2 linked regions of the Homo sapiens genome follow. The protein of the gene in region 1 interacts with the protein of each later gene in a pairwise test. Each region holds a gene or a part of one and is shown in the gene's direction. Other genes may lie near its edges.

Region 1 (5,635 bases):
GAATTGTGTCTCAATATGTTGCAGTTACTGTCGTTATTAGTTTCTAAGTTATCCTGTCTGGAACAAGTAGGAACACCATTGGGTTGGCATCTGAGTCCTATTGGGAGGACCCCTTACGTCTTTGATAACTTTCTGGCATTCTGGTATGATGGAGTGTTCCAGGTTTATCTTTATGTTTCCTGCCTTTTCTCTGTGAAGCCTTGATTACTTGTAGTGGGAAATGATATTTAGTGACCAGAATCTAAGCATGAGTTGTGTTTATGGTCATTGCACACCACGATGCAGTGGTTCTTGGTTGGTCATTATTTTTTAGCCCTTTTTGGGGACAGAGCTAGGTGGTTTTCTTTTAAGATAAACTAATGAATTGATACTGATAGTTCCAACTCAAATTCAGTATCAGTACTACAGGGTTTTTATTTATTGGTCGATGTACTTTCACATAAAATTTTCTGTGCCTGTTGTTTCTAAAAAGAAACGTGCTGCAGAAGTGTTCCTGTGGGTTAAACTAATCTATACTAGGAAGCTAGCCAGGCCTGGGAAGGCTGTGTGAAAAGAACAGTAATCCCCAGGACTTGGGGATTTACCATGAAACAGCATGAAAGCTGGAAGGGGCCTTTGAGAATGTAGAGTTCAGTGGCACCCGTACCTGCGTGTTCGTTAGAGTTTTCTAGGAAGCAAAGTCTCCTCACCCTAGATCTACATGATCAGGATCTCCAAGGTAGGAGCTAGGTGTCTACTTCTGTCAAGGTTATTTATGAAGAAATTGATGGTTAGACATGTTCAGAATCAGATCATGAGGACACTAATTCTTCCGGAAATCCCTTAACACTAAATTGATGTTTCGATGGGTTAAATGCTTTGGCTGAGATCACATAGCCAAGGTAGAACCAAAGCCCTCCAAATCAATGCTGCCCTCCTGAAACACAGATCTCATAATACACCCATTGTGCATCTCCTCAGCTTAAAAAGGAGGACCGCTGATGTGCATCACGGAAGATTTCCATCACATCATGGTGACTGGAGATTTATATAGTGCTTGCAGTATACTTTGGTTACTTTTACGTTGAGATCTGCTACCATGGAATACAGTCCAGATAACCACAGTGCCAAAGTAGGTTAAAGAGGGTCTGGAATTGCCGCTTGAACTAGTGAGGCAGAAAAGTTGGGAATCTGGAGTGCATGGTAGAAGGAAGACCACTTCAACAGAAGAGGAGAACAATTGCTGTTATAGAATCCTATATAGGACTACTAGAAACCTAAACTCCAGTGCATGAGTGGAGCCCAGCATCCAGAATGCCAAGCAGCTTTCTGAGATGCTGGCATCAGGGGTGCCTCTTTCACCAGGTGTCATGGTTCTCTGTCCATGTCAGTACAGAACTCCAGCCTCTGGGAGGGGAAGCTAAGAAGAGAAAAGCAGGTCCTCAGACAAGGCACAGTTCTTCCTTCTCCCTCACAGAGATCATAGTCTCCTGGAGAGACAAAAGGCTATGAAAGGAGAAGAATCAGACTCTTAGTTGGGTACTGTGAAGGGCTTTCCAAAACAGATAATATCCCCAAGTATGAGGCCCCAGAGACCTGGTGAAAAGAAACCTTAGGAACTAGAGACAAAGGCTAAAGAGGTCCCCAGACAGGCAGCCAACCCTCCTCCCATTAAGATTGCCCAATAATTTTAACCATTTTGGCTGCCAGACACTGGGCAGCATAAGCCTATTTCCTAGCCCTTTAGCTGAGAAACACCAAGGTGGGACTGCCATTGGCCATTGGCTCCAGGGTGGGACAGGGCTGTCATTGTGAATGCTAGGATCAGACAGGACAGGCCGAGATGAGCTACTAGACTAGGAGCCATGACTGGAGTCAGCAAAGAAACCTGCTTCACCTGATGTTGAGTCCAGGGCTGTTCGGTAGATTCCACCAGTACCTAAAAGTCATAGACTCCCACCTAGGTGTTACATTGCAAGTCATGGAGAACTCCAATCCTCAGCTGTTACAGAGAAGCATTCTTTGCAAAGAAGAGCACAGGCACTGGAGTCAGATTGCCTGGGTTCAAATCCCACCCGGTCTACATAATACTGAGTCACTTCTCTGTACCTCAGTTCCTTCACCTATAAAACAGAGATAACAGAAGTATCGACTTTATATTGAGATGTCGCCAAATATGAAATGACGAAGTAGGCAGAGCCCTTAGCGCACAGCCTACTGAGGGATGAGTATTCACTGTTAGCTATTTTTACTATTAATACTTCTGTAATTGCCACCAGTAATGATCGCTGTTGCCTCCCTTCCTGCCAGTACTGTATCTGGACGGATGGACTGAATGCGCTACTCGGGAAGGACATGATGAGCGACCTGACGCGGAATGACCTGGACACCCTGCTCAGCATGGAAATCAAGCTCCGCCTCCTGGACCTGGAAAACATCCAGATCCCTGACGCACCTCCGCCGATTCCCAAGGAGCCCAGCAACTATGACTTCGTCTATGACTGTAACTGAAGTGGCCGGGCCCAGACATGCCCCTTCCAAAACTGGAACACCTAGCTAACAGGAGAGAGGAATGAAAACACACCCACGCCTTGGAACCGTCCTTTGGTAAAGGGAAGCTGTGGGTCCACATTCCCTTCAGCATCACCTCTAGCCCTGGCAACTTTCAGCCCCTAGCTGGCATCTTGCTCACCGCCCTGATTCTGTTCCTCGGCTCCACTGCTTCAGGTCACTTCCCATGGCTGCAGTCCACTGGTGGGACAAGAGCAAAGCCCACTGCCAGTAAGAAGGCCAAAGGGCCCTTCCATCCTAGCCCTCTGCAGGCATGCCCTTCCTTCCCTTGGGCAGGAAAGCCAGCAGCCCCAGACTGCCCAAAAACTTGCCCACCAGACCAAGGGCAGTGCCCCAAGGCCCCTGTCTGGAGGAAATGGCCTAGCTATTTGATGAGAAGACCAAACCCCACATCCTCCTTTCCCCTCTCTCTAGAATCATCTCGCACCACCAGTTACACTTGAATTAAGATCTGCGCTCAAATCTCCTCCCACCTCTCTCCCTGCTTTTGCCTTGCTCTGTTCCTCTTTGGTCCCAAGAGCAGCAGCCGCAGCCTCCTCGTGATCCTCCCTAGCATAAATTTCCCAAACAGTCCACAGGTCCCATGCCCACTTTGCGTCTGCACTGTGATCGTGACAAATCTTCCCTCCTCACCAGCTAGTCTGGGGTTTCCTCTCCCTGCCCCAGGCCAGAACTGCCTTCTTCATTTCCACCCACGCTCCCAGCCTCTTAGCTGAAAGCACAAATGGTGAAATCAGTAGTCTCGCTCCATCTCTAATAGACTAAACCTAAATGCCTCTAGGACGGACTGTTGCTATCCAAGCGTTTGGTGTTACCTTCTCCTGGGAGGTCCTGCTGCAACTCAAGTTCCACAGGATGGTCAAGCTGTCAGACATCCAAGTTTACATCATTGTAATTATTACTGGTATTTACAATTTGCAAGAGTTTTGGGTTAGTTTTTTTTTTTTTTTTTGCTTTGTTTTTGTACAAAAGAGTCTAACATTTTTTGCCAAACAGATATATATTTAATGAAAAGAAGAGATACATAAATGTGTGAATTTCCAGTTTTTTTTTAATTATTTTAATCCCAAACATCTTCCTGAAAATAACATTCCCTTAAACATGCTGTGGAATAAAATGGATTGTGATGATTTGGGGAGCTGGTGTTTTGATTTAGTAACTTAGGTTCTTGCTACTCAGTCATCAGCATCACCTGGGAGCTTGTTGGAGATGCCAGCTCTTCAGCTCCACCCTAGACCTGCTGAATTGGGTGATGTTTATGTACATTGGTTTGAAAAACACTGCTGTGGGAAACCCTCCACCATTGCTAGGTCACCATAGGCTCTGAGCATCAGTGGAGAATGTTACTTCTAAGAAGACCATCTCGACTCACTGAGAAAATCAGACCCACTGTATGAAAATATCTATTCCTTTTACATTGCTGTCTCTTGACCATGACTTTCTCTTTTTTCTTTCTTACCATGATATAATTTATAGAATGGGTCTAATTAAAGACATCACAACTTTGAGGGAGCACATTTAGCAATGAAAAGAATGCATACCCACAGACCTGAAATAAGCCAGAACTAAATAAATCTAACCGTGGGTTAATAAATTATAGGTCAGAGCCCAGCGAAGGATGTTTCTTAAGTCATTTGCACTGGAGGCATTATCAGGATTGTAAACTCCCAGCACTGGGAGGGATGTCAGAAGGGTCCAAGCATGCAGTATTAAGCGTGGCACAGCACCAGCCACTCTGGCCTCACAGCACAAGCTGTGGAAGCATCCAGGTCATTTCTCTTTACCGTCATCAGGATGTGCAATTACAGATTGACCTGGGTTGAGATGATATGGTCCAGAGCACTGCATGCATTGCAGGAAAAAAGTCCTTTGCATTCACAGGGGTTCCTTCTTCCCATCAGAGCACTCACACCTGTGTCAAGCTGTTAATTCCTTGATCATTAAGCTTCGATGTTATTAACATGTACTTGCTATCAGGAGCAGTTATTAATCTACCCATCATCATGATAAAACAGTAAGTGTTAGGTCAAAGGCAGCAAACAAAGTCATATTATTTTTTTCTTATGGGTTACAAGATCCAATCCATGAAAAAGGGAACTTTCTGGACCAGGATCTCTGAGGTCCTGAGACACTGGGTTTAAGAAATGTATCTGTCCTGTGACCTTGGTTGGGGAGATCCAGCCCCTCTCTCTTCTGGCACTCCAGCTTTGGTGCATTTAATAGAAAGAAACCTTTTCAGGACTATGAAAGGCAGCATTCTCCAGCTCCTCCCTAGACCCTCCTTTGGACCTGTGAGATCTGAAGAGTATGCCATCTGTTTCCATTCATTTTGTGACCATGTGGGGAAGGATTGTTGCCCATATTTGGCCACCTCACCTTCTCTCTCCAGGCTGCCCAAGGCTTTTTTTCCCATGCAATGAGCCTACCACCTCCAACTCATCTCCTGTTGCCTGCAGTTTCCTAAGCCTGGGCAACTCAGCCAAATCCAAGGCAGAAGTAAAGTAGGAAGACTGATGTTGTCGTGAAGTCCAAGTTGCATTCTGCTATTCATATTACTCAAAATAAAACTGATTACTTAATTTGAATCTGCTGATGTTTAAATTCCTCTCTTATTCTTGTTCAGAACACATAAGAGGAAGGAGAATTAACTGGCCTCTGAAACCTCTGTGACAACATTTAAGGGCAGGGAAAGCTAATAGTAATTGCAAAAGAAAAAGTGCAAGGCTGAATGTTTCTTGAGTCTATTTGCAAGTCCGTTCTAAGCCATCCTTCAGTTATCACCTACAGCATGTCCTGTCCACCTGCTTTTACAATGAACAAAGCAATGGGTGTCCCCAATGACATGCATACCAGTCATCCATTTTGTTTTAGTTATGAAAATACAATTAACACAATCCTTTCATTTTAAGGGGAAATGAAATATCCATTCAATAATCAAAAGTGTGCTTAGAGATAGGCCCTAGGAACTCAACAAGAACAAAATTTGTAAAATTGAGATTTGTAAAAATGAGAACAAAATTCATCAAATCAGGGAAATGACAAGCAACTTAGTCAAATATAAAACCGAAAAGTTGCAGCACAGTGT
Region 2 (7,176 bases), on another chromosome or scaffold:
AATACCACAGATCTTAGACCCCAGCTCTCAGGAAGATGATGAGGGGTTATCATCATTTCTGGGATGACTCTGTGTGCTGTGTGCCCCTAGGTGGAGGTGAGCCCTCTGGAGAATGCCATCCAAGTGGTTGAGAATAAGAACCAGGAGCTACGCTCCCTGATCAGCCAGTATCAACACAAGCAGGTGCATGGCAACATTAACCTGCTAAGCATGTGCCTGAATGGTGTCATTGATGCAGCTGTCAATGGAGGCATTGCACGCTATCAGGAGGTAAGCTGTGGCCACAGGCCAAACCCATGCAGCCAGCCTGGCCAGGAAGGCGGCTCACAGGCTTCTCTTTTCAAGATTATAGTCTCCTTAGGTAGCCTTCCCTACATGCCCTCTCTTGACATGGTCCTGGAATGAGGCCCTAAGCTCCCTATCACTCCCTATTTCTTTGGCACAGTTTGGTAGGGCCTTTTCTTCATTTTTATTCTCTGAACTCTAAGATGGGTAATCTGTAATCCTGATTATGGGAGGATGTTAAGTGCCCTCCAAGAGGAGCCTTGGAGCCCAGCCCGTCAGGAGAAGTGAGTTGTAGGCTGGATAAGAGGCTAGCCCCTACTCCCAGTCCACCAGTCCTGCCTGCCCTACCTAGGCCATCCAGGCTCCATGAGGGACTGGGGTCAGCATCCAGACTTAGATGGCTTGGCCACGTTCAGTCCTTCTCAGACAAAAAAACACACCTCTAATTGCCAGAAGTTCAAACAGGCCAGACTGGTGTATGTACCTATGAGGAGACAGCCTGGCTGCTTTTTAGGTGGCATTAGTGGACTCAAGTCTCCTGGGCCCCACTTAAGTAGTAGTCCTGGGAAGAGTCTTCCTGACTTGGCCTTTCCTTTCACAGGCCTTCTTTGATAAAGATTACATCAACAAGCACCCAGGAGATGCTGAGAAGATCACCCAGCTCAAGGAGCTTATGCAGGAGCAGGTATGTCTTGGAGGGCTTGGGAACCAGCAGCCAGGTGAGAAAAGCCATGCACTACAAGATGAGCAGTTCTCAGGGGCTACTCATGGTTCACAGAGTGGCCTTGTTTGTGACTCTGATAGGTTCATGTCCTTGGAGTTGGGCTAGCAGTTCATGAGAAGTTTGTGCACCCAGAAATGCGGCCTCTGCATAAGAAGCTAATTGATCAGTTCCAGATGATGCGGGCCAGTCTCTACCATGTAAGTTGATCCCTGTCCTGCCCCTGCTGCAGTAGAACCAGGTGTCACTTCCTCCAGACCTACGCCACAAACCAAAGGAAAATAGGAGAGAGGGAGCCTGGGCAGGGGCCGGGGTTGGGGAGAGAGGCTGTCCTCCCTACAGAGGGACAGGGGGCAAGGATGGATGCTATATCCAGGGGAAGGATGCTGAGGATCCTCCCACTCACTCACTCCCAAAGGAGGAGCCAGATTCAAGGGCAGGGAACGTTTTTCAGGGCACTGTGCTAGTAGACAGGTTTTCATATGTGAAGGAAGAGAGCTAACATATATGGCCCACATGTAGGGATCTTTTTGGAGATGTTTTTCATCCCAAGAACCTAAAGAGATAGGCATGGCCTGAGCCAGCCTTCTCTCCCCATCTCCCTCCTCCTCCTCTCTCCCTGTCCTTCTTCATTCTTTCTCCTCCCTCTAATCGTTCTCTTTTCCCTCTTTTTACTCTTCCTCCCAACTCCCTTTTCTCCCTCTGTCTCTCCCTCCCTCTTATTCCCAGCTTCCTCTATCATGTCTCGTGATCCAAGCTCACATCTGAGATAGCCTAGGATGAGCAGTACTTTCATGCTAGCAGTCCTTAAAGGAGTCAAGCAGGTCCTGGGGCTGGACCAGGCTCCTGAAAGTCTCCCTAACTCTGGCCCAGCTCTTCAGCCTCCACAGTAGGGTTTGGCCCAAGGACTTAAACACACAAACAGGACTTATATTCCAGGACCAGTATTCCTTGGCAGGGTCTTAGAGGAAATGCTGACTGGCTGAGGATAGAGCCCCCTATTCACATATCCAAACCTCATTTTCAACTGTGGGGCTGACTCCAAATGTTTTCTAAAGATCCCTTCCTGCTAAACAGGCTGGCTCCCAGATCTTAAGGGATATGAGCCCAATTACCTGCTGCTACCTGGCACCCAAGCCAAGTTCTCTTCTCATCACCCAGGACCACTGGACAGAAGTGGCAGGGAGACAAGAAGTAGAGCTGTTCAATGCTGCACGAGGTTGTCATGAGCAAAAAATTCCCCCTCTAGGGATAACCATGGCCACAGGAGCCCTGAGGGAGGTTGCACTACTTAAACTCAGTGGGCCTGACCCATTTGGGGCGGACCTGCTGTGTTCTTGGATGCTGCAGGTTCTGGTCATCTCCGTCCCTCCAGGCTCCCAGTGCAGGTCTCAGCCTGTGTGGACAAGTGTGGACAGCATGAAAAGAGAAAAAGAAGCTTGTTGTAGTTTGAGAGGTAGGGGCACATTTTCCAGAGGAAAGCCTGGAGATCCTGAAATTTCTCCCTCTGTTAGGATTCTCCCATGGTATTTCAAGGTGAAATATGCAGAGAAGCTCTTTTACATCTCCGCCTTAAAATTGGAGTGTCCATTTAGTTAAGAACTTGGGCAGTATCGCTGAGTCTGGTGGGTATTCATTCCACTACCTCTCATTCCAGGGTCTCCTGCCTGTTTGACTGGTCTCTGCTGTGTGCAAACTTCCCCATCACAGCAGGTGACCCAAGCAGGCTGGAGCCTGGCCAGTGAGGAGGTTCTCTGCCATGTGGGTTGCAGCAAAAAGCACAAAACACTTTCCTATATACATCACGTTCTTCCGTGTGCACACATAGCCTTTCTCCAGCTACAGAAATACATTTTAGCCCTCTGTATGCTTTGGAAGAAGCAGGTGGAAAACCCGGTGCTTCTTCACACCAAGCTCAGAAATATCCCCAGTGGACTTAGGGCCCCTGTTCACTACAGCTTTTGAAGGACGTGAGGAAACCTTAACAGTTGTTTCCTCTGAGTTGTACACAGGGACACAAACAAACATGCTGTCACCCAGTAGGGTTTGAGATCAGAAGTGTCTGCCCAGAAATCTACATACTTAATATGAATTAATTAAGCTAAAATAGAGCTGTGCTATTTTTCAGTTACATACATCAGGATTTTATGTTCTGTCTCCCCGTAGACTGTGTCACAGACAACCCAGGTCACTAAGAGCTGGGCCATTTAGCAGTCTAATAAAACCCAACACCAATCCTTATGTAATTGGTGCCCACCTATTGACAACTAATAATAAGCTCTTCCTCTCCTTCTTCCCAGATCTTGTTCTACTTATTCCGTAGCGAGAAAACCTGTTAACACACTCCTATGAGCTCAGACCAGCTTCAGTTTATTCCAGATGTGCTTCTCTTAATGTGGAGTCAACCTGGGGCCTCGCACACGGCCTTTGGTCTAGGTTCCAGTGCAGTTAGGAGGGTGTTTTAGTCGTGAAGAGGGCATTGCCCAAAGGAAGTCAGCAGTTCAGGTTCAGCCAACCATATGATTCTTTTTTGTTTCTTTTACATTTTTGATCACCAGTCAGTTATTCCCTCACATCCCTTAGTTACTTATTTATTCTTTACTCTCTATGAAGGGGCATTCATTTCTCAACAGGAGTTTCCAGGTTTGGATAAGCTAAGTCCTGCATGTTCAGGCACCAGCACCCCACGGGGAAATGTTCTGGCATCCCATAGCCCCATGAGTCCGGAGAGCATCAAGATGACCCACCGGCACAGGTATGGCCTTAGGGCTGGGGAGGGTTCCCTCTGGAGAGGTGAGTCTAAATTGTCAAGGGTCAGAGGAAAGAGTCCTCATGTATACTCATATTCCCTCTTACCCATGCACACAGCAAACACTTATGTGGCTCCTGCCATAGGACCCACACCCTGCATTCAGTCAGTCACTATCCTGGGTAAGAGAAGTGTATACATGATACTGTGGGAACATGGAGGAGGGGGCATTTGGGGTAAGTCTTGAAGGATAAGTAGATGTTTGCTAGGGGTTAGGAGGGTGATAGGGCAAGATCTAGGAAAATCGACTGACACATGCAGAAGCCTCAAGATATGAACAAGCCAGCCTGGTCAGCACTCTGAGTAGAGCCAAGTGGCTGGAGTGCCGGATTCCAGGGCACGGAAAGGGGATAGGATCAGCTCTGAGTGGGCCTTGTTCATGCAGGCCTTTGGACTTGATCCCAAGGAGAATGAGGATCACCAAGTCAGTTTTAAGGAAGAAACAGCATAGTGATGTGAACATCAAAGACTGGTTTGCCTGGGCTCAACTGAGAATACTGAAAGCCTCTAGGCCAGGAAGGCCAAGTTGGAGGAGGAGACTAGTGAGAGGAGCCCCTCACTTAGGCTTGTTTTCCAGTGTGAGCAGCAGCTCAGCACAGAGTGGGCACTTAGTAAATAAGGGACAAATGAATGAGAAGCTTTCCTGGTATTGCTAGAGGAGAGCTATTGACAAGCCTTTTGGCCACAGATGTGGAAGGAGGCCTGCAGATAGTTCACAGCCGGCTATTTTGGTAGCTTCCCACACTAGGAAGAAGCCTCTGACCAAGAAGCAGATCCCATCATGGTGTGGGGGGGTTGGGGGGTGGGCACTGACCCAGACTAATACCCCATAGAAAGGGGAACCTGAGGTCTTTGACCTGATTTGGCATATCTCTTATTCCTCCTGAGAAACTGCTAATGTCATGCAACTGAGTGGCCATAAGCCATGTAGCTGTAGGTAGAGGCTTGTCCAGTGTACCACACCATTGTCTCTCCCAGACCAAGGGCTCCTGAGTAGCAGGGTACAGCTCAGGACTGCTCCAGGCCTCAGATGGGTATGAGCATTGACTATGGAACCCTCCAAACCGGTGGTAGCTGAAACCAGGGATGACTATTCCACACATTCCGCTCTACTGTCCCCCTGCCACCTGCCATGGGCCTGACTCCTCCCTATTTCCCACTCTTGCTCACAGCCCCATGAACTTGATGGGCACAGGCCGCCATTCATCATCCTCTCTCTCCTCACATGCGTCTAGTGAAGCAGGAAACATGGTGATGCTGGGTGACGGCTCCATGGGTGATGCTCCTGAGGACCTGTACCACCACATGCAGGTACAGAGCTGTCCACGGAGAGTGGGCCAGGGCACCATGCCTACAGAACTCACCTTGCTGTTGCAATGTCTAGTCTGAGGGCTTGGCAACCCTGCCTAATTCTCTAGCTCCTGAATTCAGAACACCCCTCACCAGAGCTAGAAAGCTGCCGTTCCTCCACACACCATCCTAAGTCTCGGTTCCCAGGCCTTATTTCCCAAGAAGAAAATCCAGCTTCAGTCCTGGTTGCTTTAGGAGATCCCACGGGAAAGATCCTCTGCCAGATTGCCCCCTTGCCTGGCATTCCTGTTGGCTTAGCCCTGCTTCCTCCATGGTCACCGTAGTATGGCCAGCCCAACAACTTCGCTCCATATGGGTGGTGTGGGTGGCCCCTAGTTGCCCAGCCATTAGCCTGGCCTCCATCAGGGCTCAGGGGATAGCATAAGGCACTGGGGCAGAACACCTCAGGGCATGAAAAAGCAAACTCTGTGCCAGCCCTAAAGTCCTGGCCATTCAGACCTCTATCCTGCTGATTTTTCTCCCTTTGCAGCTCGCGTATCCCAACCCCAGGTACCAAGGCTCAGTCACCAACGTCTCTGTTCTGTCCTCGTCCCAGGCAAGCCCTTCTTCCTCCAGCCTGAGTTCCACTCACTCAGCACCATCCCAGATGATTACCTCTGCCCCTTCCAGTGCCCGAGGTAAGGATGGCAGGGTGCTACTTGCAGAATGGAGAAGAGAGGTCTTCATCAACGCCACTCGGCTTCCTCTCATCTGTGGCTGTGTCTTTGAGCAGCCCTGTGACTTAGAGAATACTCATTTGTGCTTTTACCACTAAGGACTCGAGAGTTCCTGCCTCCAGGCCTCTTCCCTGGCTGGCTTCAGACTCCGCTCTGAGCAGTGGCTGCCGCTGTGCCGCCATTGCATTTCTACCTCAGTCACAGGACACACAGCTTAGAAGAAAGCTCACTTCTTTCCCATTGAAAGTTTTGCTAGAACAAAGATCAAAGTCTAGGCAAAAGTGAGTCTTTTGTCTTGAGGAATCAGGCATGATGACAAAGTATGAAAAGTAAATCGGGAGACTAAAATTAACCCTGGAAAATGTTATTCTAAAACAATAACAGCAACCAAAAAATTTTTCTTCAGTTGGGAAAGGCTTTCTCAGGAGAGATGGCTCTGTAAAAACCTATTTACTTTGCCAATTATTAGTTGATTTCTTGTTCAGTTGAATGAATATTGTTCTTTGAGAGGCAGCATCTTCGCATCTTTTTCACGTTCTAATCCTAGTTCCCAAGTGAAAGTTGATTCTGTCCTTGTAGACAGAAACATTTGCAGTGGAATGGAAATTAGCTGTGGTACATAGGATCTAGTGCTTCCCAGGGTTGGCTTTGCAGGGTAGTGACAGTGGTCTGAGCTTGCCAGCCAGTCACTTGCTCTTGCTTCCAGGCTTCAGAAGGAGGGAGTCTCTTTGTTCTTCTCATTATTATGAAACCAAAGAAAAATATCACAAATTTATTTATTTATTTTATTATACTTTAAGTTCTATGGTACATGTGCACAACGTGCAGGTTTGTTACTATGTATACATGTGCCATGTTGGTGTGCTGCACCCGTTAACTCGTCATTTACATTAGGTATATCTCCTAATGCTATCCCTCCCCACTTCCCCCACCTGACAACAGGCCCCAGTGTGTGATGTTCCCCACCCTGTGTCCAAGTGTTCTCATTGTTCAGTTCTCACCTATGAGTGAGAACATGCAGTGTTTGGTTTTCTGTCCTTGCAATAGTTTGCTCAGAATGATGGATTCCAGCTTCATCCATATCCCTACAAAGGACATGAACTCATCCTTTTTTATGGCAGCATAGTATTCCATGGTGTATATGTGCCACATTTTCTTAATCCAGTCTGTCATTGATGGACACTTGGGTTGGTTCCAAGTCTTTGCTATTGTGAATAGTGCCGCAGTAAACATACATGTGCATGTGTCTTTATAGTAGCATGATTTATAATCCTTTGGGTATATGTCCAGTAATGGGATGGCTGGGTCAAATGGTATTTCTAGTTCTAGATCCT

What was found.
Region 2: the proteins of ELMO1 (region 1) and DOCK3 interact in a two-hybrid assay, tested with the Homo sapiens proteins (one study listed by BioGRID).

The regions. Positions count from the first base shown.
Region 1 is NC_000007.14:36,852,406-36,858,040, reverse strand, and holds the end of ELMO1 (engulfment and cell motility protein 1), read left to right. Parts: intron 1-2,289; coding exon 2,290-2,490; 3' UTR 2,491-5,135; downstream 5,136-5,635. UniProt on the Homo sapiens protein: Involved in cytoskeletal rearrangements required for phagocytosis of apoptotic cells and cell motility. Acts in association with DOCK1 and CRK. Was initially proposed to be required in complex with DOCK1 to activate Rac Rho small GTPases.
Region 2 is NC_000003.12:51,356,872-51,364,047, forward strand, and holds part of DOCK3 (dedicator of cytokinesis protein 3), read left to right. Parts: intron 1-90; coding exon 91-270; intron 271-886; coding exon 887-970; intron 971-1,089; coding exon 1,090-1,206; intron 1,207-3,639; coding exon 3,640-3,761; intron 3,762-4,987; coding exon 4,988-5,126; intron 5,127-5,655; coding exon 5,656-5,803; intron 5,804-7,176. UniProt on the Homo sapiens protein: Potential guanine nucleotide exchange factor (GEF). GEF proteins activate some small GTPases by exchanging bound GDP for free GTP.